Homo sapiens: one gene and its partner. The protein of the gene in region 2 purifies or fractionates together with the protein of the main gene of each other region. This does not show direct contact. Each region holds a gene or a part of one and is shown on either strand. Other genes may lie near its edges.

Region 1 (3,500 bases), 1.1 Mb from region 2:
CCCCCTGACCCTCCTGGAAGCTGGGGGACTCTGCAGGGTCCCTCTCAACAAGCACTCTCCCGGCCCCTGCAGACAAATAAATGAGGCCAGCTACCTCTGCAATATATCTTCCCACCCACTCACCTGCCTACAGGTAGACAGCCTTCCCACTGCTGGGCTAGGTGTTCTCTGGTGTCCTATCACCTTCTACAAACTCATGGTGCCTGATGGACCTCGCATGTACAGCCCAGACAGTCGTAGGAGAATAGACTTGAAAGGGGCTTGAAGAGAGCCAAGGATAACCTGCTCATTGTATAAAATGAGGATTCTGAAATCCAGAGAAGTTAAGAGATGAGTCAAGGTCATATAGCTTGTTCTCAATTTCACATGCGTTTTGTTTGGTCTCCTCATCAAAAATATGTAGCTCCTAGAGGATGAGGCCACTGAGTGTTCCCCACAGCATGCTAATGGGCACTAATTAAATAGTGGGTTCAGGCCACACCTGTTGACAGGTGGATTCTTAGGGAGGAAATGAGAATGAGAACAAGCACCTGTCGCCCCTGGGCCCGGGGCATACACTTGACTCTCTGGGCGTCTGTCTCCCTGCCCTGGACCTGGAGATAGAACTGACAATCTCCACAGAGGAAGGTCTCCTGGGAGGAAGGCAGGACAGCTCCTCAGAAGGAGGGGTCACATCACATTTAGACCTAGCACAGGACTTGGTACAGAGGAGCATCCATTCCTTAACAATGCACTGTGGACTGAGGACCGTGAGGGGAAGCTCTGGGGTAGGGCTCACTTGCCACTACTCCAGCACAGACCCATTGTGCTACGCTGGAACCCAGAGAGCCTGTGCCCTCCCCTTACCTAATAGGAATTAGACAGATGCTACCACTAACGGGCTAAACTCCCCTTGGTGTTTGTCGGCTTGACATCTGTCTGGATTGTGAGCTGATGACCACGGGCACGAGCCCCCGAGGGAATTCTTTCCACCCAGGGGTCCAGCTTACACCTGGGCTGGCAGACCAAGGCCACACTGCAGCCTCGCTGCCCCCACTCATAGCCATGAGATATCCCCTGCTCCTAAATCTACCTCTGCCTCTTAGTGCGGGCCCTCCCAGCCCCACCTGAGACTGAAGACTTTGTGGAAGTAAAAAACAGATCTTCTAGACTTTGGTTTTCACAACAGTAGCTCTTCCCAGCATTTGCCAAAGATTCGAGTAATGGAGGAGATGAGTTTAGCTGGTTCTTTTATGAAAGATCTTGGGAGAGGACTAGGTAGAGCTCAGGAATGGCTTGTGTTGTCTCCAGAAGGCTAAAGGAAGAACCATCATCATAGAAGATAAGCCTGGGCTACCCTAAATAATGTGCTCCATTGCTACACACAGACACACCTGCACCCACTTCCTGGACCTGCCACTTTAGCCACTCTCTGAGCCCCAGTTTCTCTTACCTATAAAATGATACAATGCCCATTTTACCTGCTTCACAAGGCTAAGAGGATCACACAAGGGCATGTGAGAATGAGCTTTATTAGGACAGAAGACTAATATTTATTCAACATGAGCTTGCCATGTGCCAACCACTTACAGATGTTTTCTTCCAGAGTTTTCACAGCAGTCTTAAATATGCTTGGTAGTATTATTATCCTCACCTATAAAGCCAAGAAAACGGAGGCTCAGAGGGGTTAAGTGATGTGCACACTGCTTAGCTGTAGTAGAACCAGGGTCAGAACCCAGAATCTGACTCCAAAGCCTGTGTTCCTTCCCCTAGCCCCACGCTGTCTCAACAAGAAAAGTAAATGCTGCTTTTTATGAAGAAGCCAGTGAGTTTTCAGACTGAAATTGCTGCCTCATGGAGCCATCCCCTATCGCTAGGAACATCCATTTGTCCCAGGCAGGCCATCAGAAGGGTCAGAACCAACCCCTAGGCCCCCACTGTCCTTAAGACTCTATACCACAGGGGCCAAGCCCCTGCAGTCTGTTGAATGTCATCATGATTCTTTGCTCGGATTTGTGGCGGTGGCGGTGGTTTTAATGATTGCCTAGCCACAAAGCCACGAAGCAATCCAATTGGGAGGAAATATGGAATCATGGAACTTTGAGTAGAAGGGGACCTCTGAGAGCAAGTTCAAGCTCCTCATTGGATAAGTGAGGACACTGACATCCAGAGAAGGTAAGTCCCTTGTTGAAGGTCACACAGTCAGTCAGTGGCTGAGTCCACAGTGGAATCCACCATGCTCAGACTACCAGTCCCCCCTTTCTCTCCACCATCCCGATCACCCTGATATCAATCAGCTTCATGGTTCCTGAGATGGAAGAGGGCTGGATGTGGGCCTATAGTCTCTGCTCTCTCTGCTTAGGGAAAAAGGGGATCTTAGGTAAGAAAGCCATGTTGCAACCAGGAGTGAAGTGATTTGTTTGCCTCATGCACCAACTCATTGGTCTAAGTTCTACCCATTGAGAAGCCAACGTGGAAAGGTCTGCTCGGAAATCCCTCAGTGTGTAAGGGAAACTGGACCCAAACAACAAGGCCTTACCTGGTGCTCCTGGGGCAGGGACAGCCCACTTCTGGCCACCTGGGATAGGTAGAGGGGGCTAAGCTCCTCCTTCTAGTCCAGGCTGCTCCCTTGCAGTCCCCAGGACAGCGCAGAGCACCATGACCTAGGAGGCTCATGTTTCATGCCCCCACTGGCCAGCCGCTCAGCCAGTCCTCCTCTAACACTCTGCAGAGGCTCCCTTCCTCCCAGAAGTCTGCCCTGTGACTCCACTCTGTCCTGGTCACTCCACATCCTGCCCCACTGTTGTCTCCTGTGGTTAACACCTGGTTGGTGGCTTTTTCCACGTCACCTCTCTGTCCATCATCTCTCAGGTCTGTGTATTGTATGTGCCCTCTCTACTGTTAACCCCAGACACCCCTCATCCCCAAAGTGTCCTCAGGGTCTGTGTACCTGTTTTCTACTGCAGCCTCTGCCAGGGCTGTGCACAGCAGGCAGCACCAGGCCACAGCATTGACTGGCTATTTGTGCAACGCTGGTTGAAGACGCCAGTGACCTGGAAAAGGGCCCAAGCCAGGTTCTGGGGAAGCAAAAGGAAAGGGAAAGGGGTAATCCTCCAACTGGATCATCAGCTCCAACATAACATGACAGAGGAGAGTCAACCATGACTGAGCCTCTCCTCTGTGCCAGACACCGTGCTAGGGACTTAACAGATGCCCCTCAACAGTCCTGTGAGCTATGTGCTTTTACTTCCCAATTTACAAATGGGGTAACTGGATCGAAGATGTTAAGCAACTTGTCTAGATCCATATGACAGGTAAAGAGCAGGGCTAGGCTCTAAATGAAGTTTTGCCTGATGCTAAATAAAGCCCATACTCAACACCGCCCCCACCACAAGCAAGCTCCTTGAGGACAGGCTTCATGGCAATGTCTTGGCTTTGTTTTTGCTGCTGTCTCCTCAATGCCTAGGACTGTGCCGGGGACACAGAAGATGCTCTATAAATATTTGCTGAATGGAAGAACA
Region 2 (6,095 bases):
TGGCCATGTTTTCTCTTGTAAATTATCTGTTCCTGGCTTTTGCCCAATTATCTACTGATCTACTTAAATTTGCCTACAAGACATATCACATGACAGTCATTAAACCTAACCATTTTTGCATGACATAGTGTAAACTATTTCAGTGTTTCACATGTATTAACCACCCCTGGAGGGAAGGAAAGAAAAGAGAGTAATTCGACAGTAATTCCAAGACAGGGAGTTGCCCCTTAGGGGATGACTACAAAGGAAGAAAGAAAATACCTGGCTTCATGTTAGGCATCCCCATCTCCAAAACCACGCTGGGGGTATGCACCTCATTGTAGTAAATCAGGAGTTCCACGTCCCGATCAAACTTGTGTCCAGCAGCCAGGGAAACCTGAGTGGAGGACAGGTAAAGGAGCCACATTAGAATCATAACTTCTTGCTTCTTGGGGCTGAGGTTAGGGCGCAGTCCTCCTCCATAAGACAGCATGACTAGGAACAGAGGTGAGGCTGGAGAGAAGGCTCTGGAGATTAAATGACGATATGCAAGGAGCATGTGGGACCCCCTCTGGGTTACCACTTGGGAAGAACTGGTTGGGGACCAAGTCAAGACTCAAGCAACAGAGGTACTGACAATAGCAGTATTCTCTCATTAACTACCTGAGCAGAAGTCTTGTCCTCTCCTAGGTACTCGGTAGGACTCAAGGGGCAGTTGGATTGGACCTTCTCAATGCCATGCTGGGAATCTATGGTGGCGACCATGCTGAGTGTGTAGGGCAGGTCCTCCACAGGGACTATAGGAGTCTTCACATTAAGGCAACTGTCCTTAGACGACCCTATAAAAGATGACCTTAGTTCTGTTTTCCTTGCCAACACTTTTTATGACACTCTCAACCTTAAGAAAATTTCCCCATTTATGTCACCCACCACTAGAATTCAAAGGGGAGAGGTACTCACCAGAGAACTGGTATCTAGGATTCAGGACAGCTGGGAGCACAAAGCGCAGAGCCCCATCTGCTTCCAGAGGCAGCTCCTGCACATACTTCAGGGTGACTGCCGCCTTCGACCCAGGTTGGAGGTTACCCACATTGCAAGAGAAGACATCCCTGGAGCTGCTGTCCCCCTCCAATAAGAAGGCCTGGTGGCCCTGGGAGATGGCTTTCTCATAGTTGGTGCGGGCCTGAGAAGCACAGGGCGAGGGATGGGAAAGAAAGGGAACATCCAAGGTGACATGGCTGAAAAAGAGACGAGCAGTGCAGAGCGACTGTGTGATTGGTCTTGTCTAATCACAGCTATACTCTGAATGCCTCTGATTGATTTCTTTCCCCAAATGATTTTAGAAAAATGGCAGTTAGAAAAGAGTGGAAGAAAGAGCTTTCAACATCAGCATGTTTTGTGAAGGTACATTTAGTAGAGATCATAAAGAGTATGCATTAAGGAAATAAGAAGGGAGGAGGTAATGTAATAAGAAGGGAGGAGGTAATCTCTACTACCTTCATCTTGTCTTGTAATTCTGCTACAATTTTCTTCCCATCCACCAAGGCCTCAAAGCTGTAAACAGCAGAGTCTTCATCCATGGGGAACACAAAGAAGGCCTCCAAAGGAACTTTCTCCTCATTCTCGTAGTTCAAAGTTGCAGACACACCAGCCACAAACTCGTAAATGTTCACGCTCACAGAGATACTCTTCAGCGGCACTGGAGATAGACCAGAGTTCAAGTTCATCAAGCTTCAATAGATTGCCTCCTTGTAGATCAAGCCTTGTGATAGGTGCCAAAGATTCAATGGCAAGTAAGAGTCACAAATTAGGCTTACCTGGCTCCCGGTGGAGGGTGAGTAGGCCACAGAAGTGCACCATGGTGATGCAAGATTTCTGCAGAAAAGACATATCACAAACAGAGGACATGTTGGAAGTTATCTGTTCAAACACCAGTACTTTATGTGCCTTTCTCTGGCATAAGAATACATTCAAAGGGTTAATGTTGGAGTTAGGAAGTTGGAACCTTTAAAAAAAAGGAGACAAAGATTTCAGTCATAAGGGTCCTTTTAAATGGCAGTCCCAGGTGGGGAAGGTGTAAGATTCACTGGTATCTACTAAACAGGAAATCTCTGAAACACCCTGAGGCTGGTTCAAATACCAATTCCACTTTCTCAAAAGTGTATTTAATTCACCACTCCTTGGGCATATGGAGTAGGTGTCACTAATCCCTCTGAGCCTCAGTATTTTCTTTCCAAAATGAGTAGTATAATATCCACACATCGTATGTGAATTAATACATGTGAAGTCCCTACAATAGCACATGGGCCATAGGAGGCATTTAATCAATGATGACAGACATCACTATTGTCCCTATTATTGTTGTTACTGTTAATCAATAAACCTCTGCCACCATTCACTTTGGATCATGGCATTCAGAGACGCGCTGCATGTGAGAAGCTGTGTGATTCAAGATGGACTCCTGCCACAGGCCATTTACCTTGTGGCTTTTCTTTTGGGACCCAAAATTAAAAGATACGAGTATATTTGTTTGTATCCATCCAAGATATTCTAATATATTTAAATATTATATAGGCACATAGCCTACATTTGCACCCCCACTAAACAGCACCAATAAATCAGGCTTTTCATTCCATATCTGTTTTTATTTTGAGAAATTGGATAAAAACTGAGTGTGGCAAAATGACTCACAATTCGACAGCAACGCAGAGGACAGTGGCAGGTGTGAGGAGAGGAGAGGATGCTCAGAAAAGGGCTTCTACGCAGACCTCTGACCTGGGCAAGTTCTCTGGTAGAACAGGCTGGGCTGGGGGAGGGAAGAATTTCTAATAACACATTAAGCAGAGAGCCTAAAGCAGGAGACTCACACAGGAGTAAAACAGCTGAAAGAGAAGCTCTCAGGCTGGGCAATACTCACCAAGGTGGCTAGAGTAAAAGAGAGAGAGACGCAAAGGGCACCCCTACAAGGAAATAGCCTTCGCTTCCTGATTCTAAGCTCAGAACAAATCCTCCGTTGAGGAAAACTTGCTATTCTGCACCCTTGCCCCCACTCTTCCCAGTACAAACAAAATTAGTTTGGGTCAGAATTAGTTCTGTCTCTCAGGATGGCACTTCAGAAAGGCAACTTGCAAGGCTTAGGTAGAGACTGGCCACCAAGCTGAAAGCCATGAATCTGAGGCAGCTGGGAGAATACAAGGCTTCCGGCCTAGCCAGGTAGCTGCTTCAGGAATGCAGAGTCCCAGCACCAGCCGCTCAGCAGCTAGGAGGGTGGGAGGGGAGCTGGGTGGCACCACCGGCCACACACACCCCTGCGGCCTGTGGCAGGGGTGAAGTGGAGAACTCGGAACCAGACAAGGAGGAGATTTGGGGTAAGAAGTGGGGCTTGGATAAAATCAGAGATTGATTTAACCTTTCCATTCAGTCCTAGATTTCCAATGTCCACGTATTTACAGAAGAGACTGCGTCGGTCTCTTACATTTCTATAGAGAAGGGCTTAGGGGCTGCAACTGATTGGAGTAGATGAGGCTTACAGCCTCATTTCCTCAGCTTACACTATCCTGAAACTGAGAAAACATCAATTGTCTATATCAAAGAAAGAAAGCGGGAAAAAAAGTAAAGTAAAAGAGAAGGAAAGTAGGAAGAAGGGCCTTGAGATTAGGAGATGGCTAAATCCCTCCTTCAACCTCCAAAAGATTCCCCTAAACTGCCAAACTTGCAGGAACCTTCCTGGGGATCATACATCAGGATGAAATCCTCCACCCATGGGGCGTGCAATTCAAGGAGCCCCTACAAATTTGGGGACTGGGGAAAGGGAGCTAGAATGTGGAGCTCTCAGTCTTCCAGAGCAGGGGTTGGATCCAGGCCCTGCACCGGTAGCTTGGTCCCCTACCTTCCTCTCCTGCAGCCCGGAGCGCTCTGAGTCACAGCGGAGTGAAAACAGCTGCAGTCATAATTTCCGGAAAGAACCGCCCCCTTCTAGGGACCGGTTATAAAGTAGCGACTACAAGACTAAGGGATCAACGGAAAATTATTGAACAAATAATCGAACTTTCGCTTGTTTGTATCAAAGGAAAAGTCTTCGACTTTGGAACGTTTGGTTTTTTTCTTTGCTCTTTGCTAAGGAACAATCAGAGAACAGGCAAAGAGGGCAAGGGAAAATGCTGCAACAGGAACAACAACAATGACATTAAAAACTGCATATTTTTGTAAAAGCTTAATTGCCAAAGGCTTACTGTGTCCTGGGCCCTGTTAATCAAAGCTTTATGGAGATTATATCATTGACACCTTATCTCTAATGTGAGTCATTTTCCCCCAAGTTGCCCCTCCCCTACAGCAGGGGGAAAGATAAGGAGATAGTGCAAGGCACACACATCTGCTCTAATGAGAGAAGCTCTAGCCAGGGAAGCCCAAGTCTTCCTGTCATGGGTCGCTTATGGGATCCTGAAACCAAATGTTTGGGTTAACGATGTAAGTAACTGAGAATGTCTATGCTCATTTACCTGGCTAAAGGACATTAGAAGCGATCAAGGTCCCCATGGCTTCTCTATTTCAAAACAACCTATTAAATCTGAGACTTAAAGTGTCATATTGCTGTCGAGAATCTATAGGATAAAGAATACATGATACATATGGAAAACACAGCTTGATTTTGGTCTCTGTGATGTATTTTTTGTGGATATACTTGTTATATACTGGTTATATACTTGTTTTTGTGAGATATTTGTTATATACAAATAACTCTCCCCAAGTTATTTGTTCTCTCATCTGAAACGGGGATAATGACAAACCTCCACTGATTGTTTTTGTGAGATCTAATGAATCTTAGTGGCTATAAAAGTTTTATATATATATATATATATATATATATACACACACACACACACACACACACACATTTATATACTTTATATATATACACCCACATACACATTTATATACATGGATGTGCATGCATAGATGTATATATGTGTATATATGTACACCCATGCATGTATATACAGTTACATGCATGTAATATATGCATATATAGTAAAGCATAATATAAGCACAAATTCTATTTTATCAGTACTAGGCCCTACAACCATGTTTTTTACATGTACTGAACTAATTATGAGAGGAAATTATCCTTTTCTCTGGAGAGAAATCATGTCTGGTATTGTTCCTTGTGACTGTGCCTTCTTTCCATTGGCCGAAACATCTGAGCAACAAAAGGGAGGAGCTGGAAACGTGGGCAGAGTTCATCATCTGATCCTGCTGGGCTTAGAGCTTAGCACTAAAAGTCTGCCACAGACCAGGCATGCAGCGTGGTTAGAGGGCACTGAATCAGGAAACACACAGAAGTTGCTGGTTGTTGAAAAAACAACTATGTGAAAATTCCCATAACCTAGCACAATATACACAATTAAACCGATATAGATGAGATATCTTCACTTAAAAGTCTGTCTTAGTGTTGCCAGGCATTCCTCAAGGTTGATTCTCACCTTCTTTTTTATACTAACAGGAACCCCAAGTTTCACAATGTCTATGACCATTCAGAATAAAAACATTGCCTAGCCTCCCTTAAAGCTGGTGTGGCCTTGTAACTAAGCTCTGGCCCATAGGGTACAAGAAATAAGTGCAACACCATGTCATGCCCTTTCAAAGAAAAGAGGATGGCTTCCCATTCACTTTACCCTCTTCCTGCTCATTGGTGTGAATGCAGGTAACTGAACCAGCTTGAACCATAAAGACTAGATCATAAAGCCTGGAGCATTTCCCCTAAAAATGGAGAAGCAACAAGACAGAAAGATCCTGAGCCCCTGAGACTCTCATAGAGCAAGCCACTGTATCATCACAGAATTTTACAGGATAAAGTAACAAATTTCTCCATGGTTTATAACAGCTCTTTGGGTCCTTATCTTACCCTAATACATTTGATTATGATTAATTAAAAAGTAGACTTTTAAGGAAACTATCTTCTTCAGAATATGAAAAGCACATTTGCTTATAATGGAAATAGAAATCTGCATATTATGAGAACAATATCCAATTTATTTTAGCGCCCACCACTGTAACACATGTGCCCTGAATTATGCCGGTGTGTGTTGATTATGTTGATCATAGTTTGCTACTTATTT

Evidence for each region.
Region 1: the proteins of VWA5A (region 2) and PKNOX2 purify together in Homo sapiens (affinity purification with mass spectrometry; 2 studies listed by BioGRID and IntAct, with this or other methods). This does not show direct contact.

The regions. Positions count from the first base shown.
Region 1 is NC_000011.10:125,171,251-125,174,750, reverse strand, and holds part of PKNOX2 (homeobox protein PKNOX2), read right to left. Parts: intron 1-3,500.
Region 2 is NC_000011.10:124,113,256-124,119,350, reverse strand, and holds the start of VWA5A (von Willebrand factor A domain-containing protein 5A), read right to left. Parts: upstream 3,902-6,095; 5' UTR 3,869-3,901; intron 2,786-3,868; 5' UTR 2,671-2,785; intron 1,985-2,670; exon of another isoform or gene 1,888-1,984; coding exon of another isoform or gene 1,840-1,887; coding exon 1,797-1,839; intron 1,679-1,796; coding exon 1,476-1,678; intron 1,163-1,475; coding exon 940-1,162; intron 819-939; coding exon 643-818; intron 377-642; coding exon 262-376; intron 1-261. UniProt on the Homo sapiens protein: May play a role in tumorigenesis as a tumor suppressor. Altered expression of this protein and disruption of the molecular pathway it is involved in, may contribute directly to or modify tumorigenesis.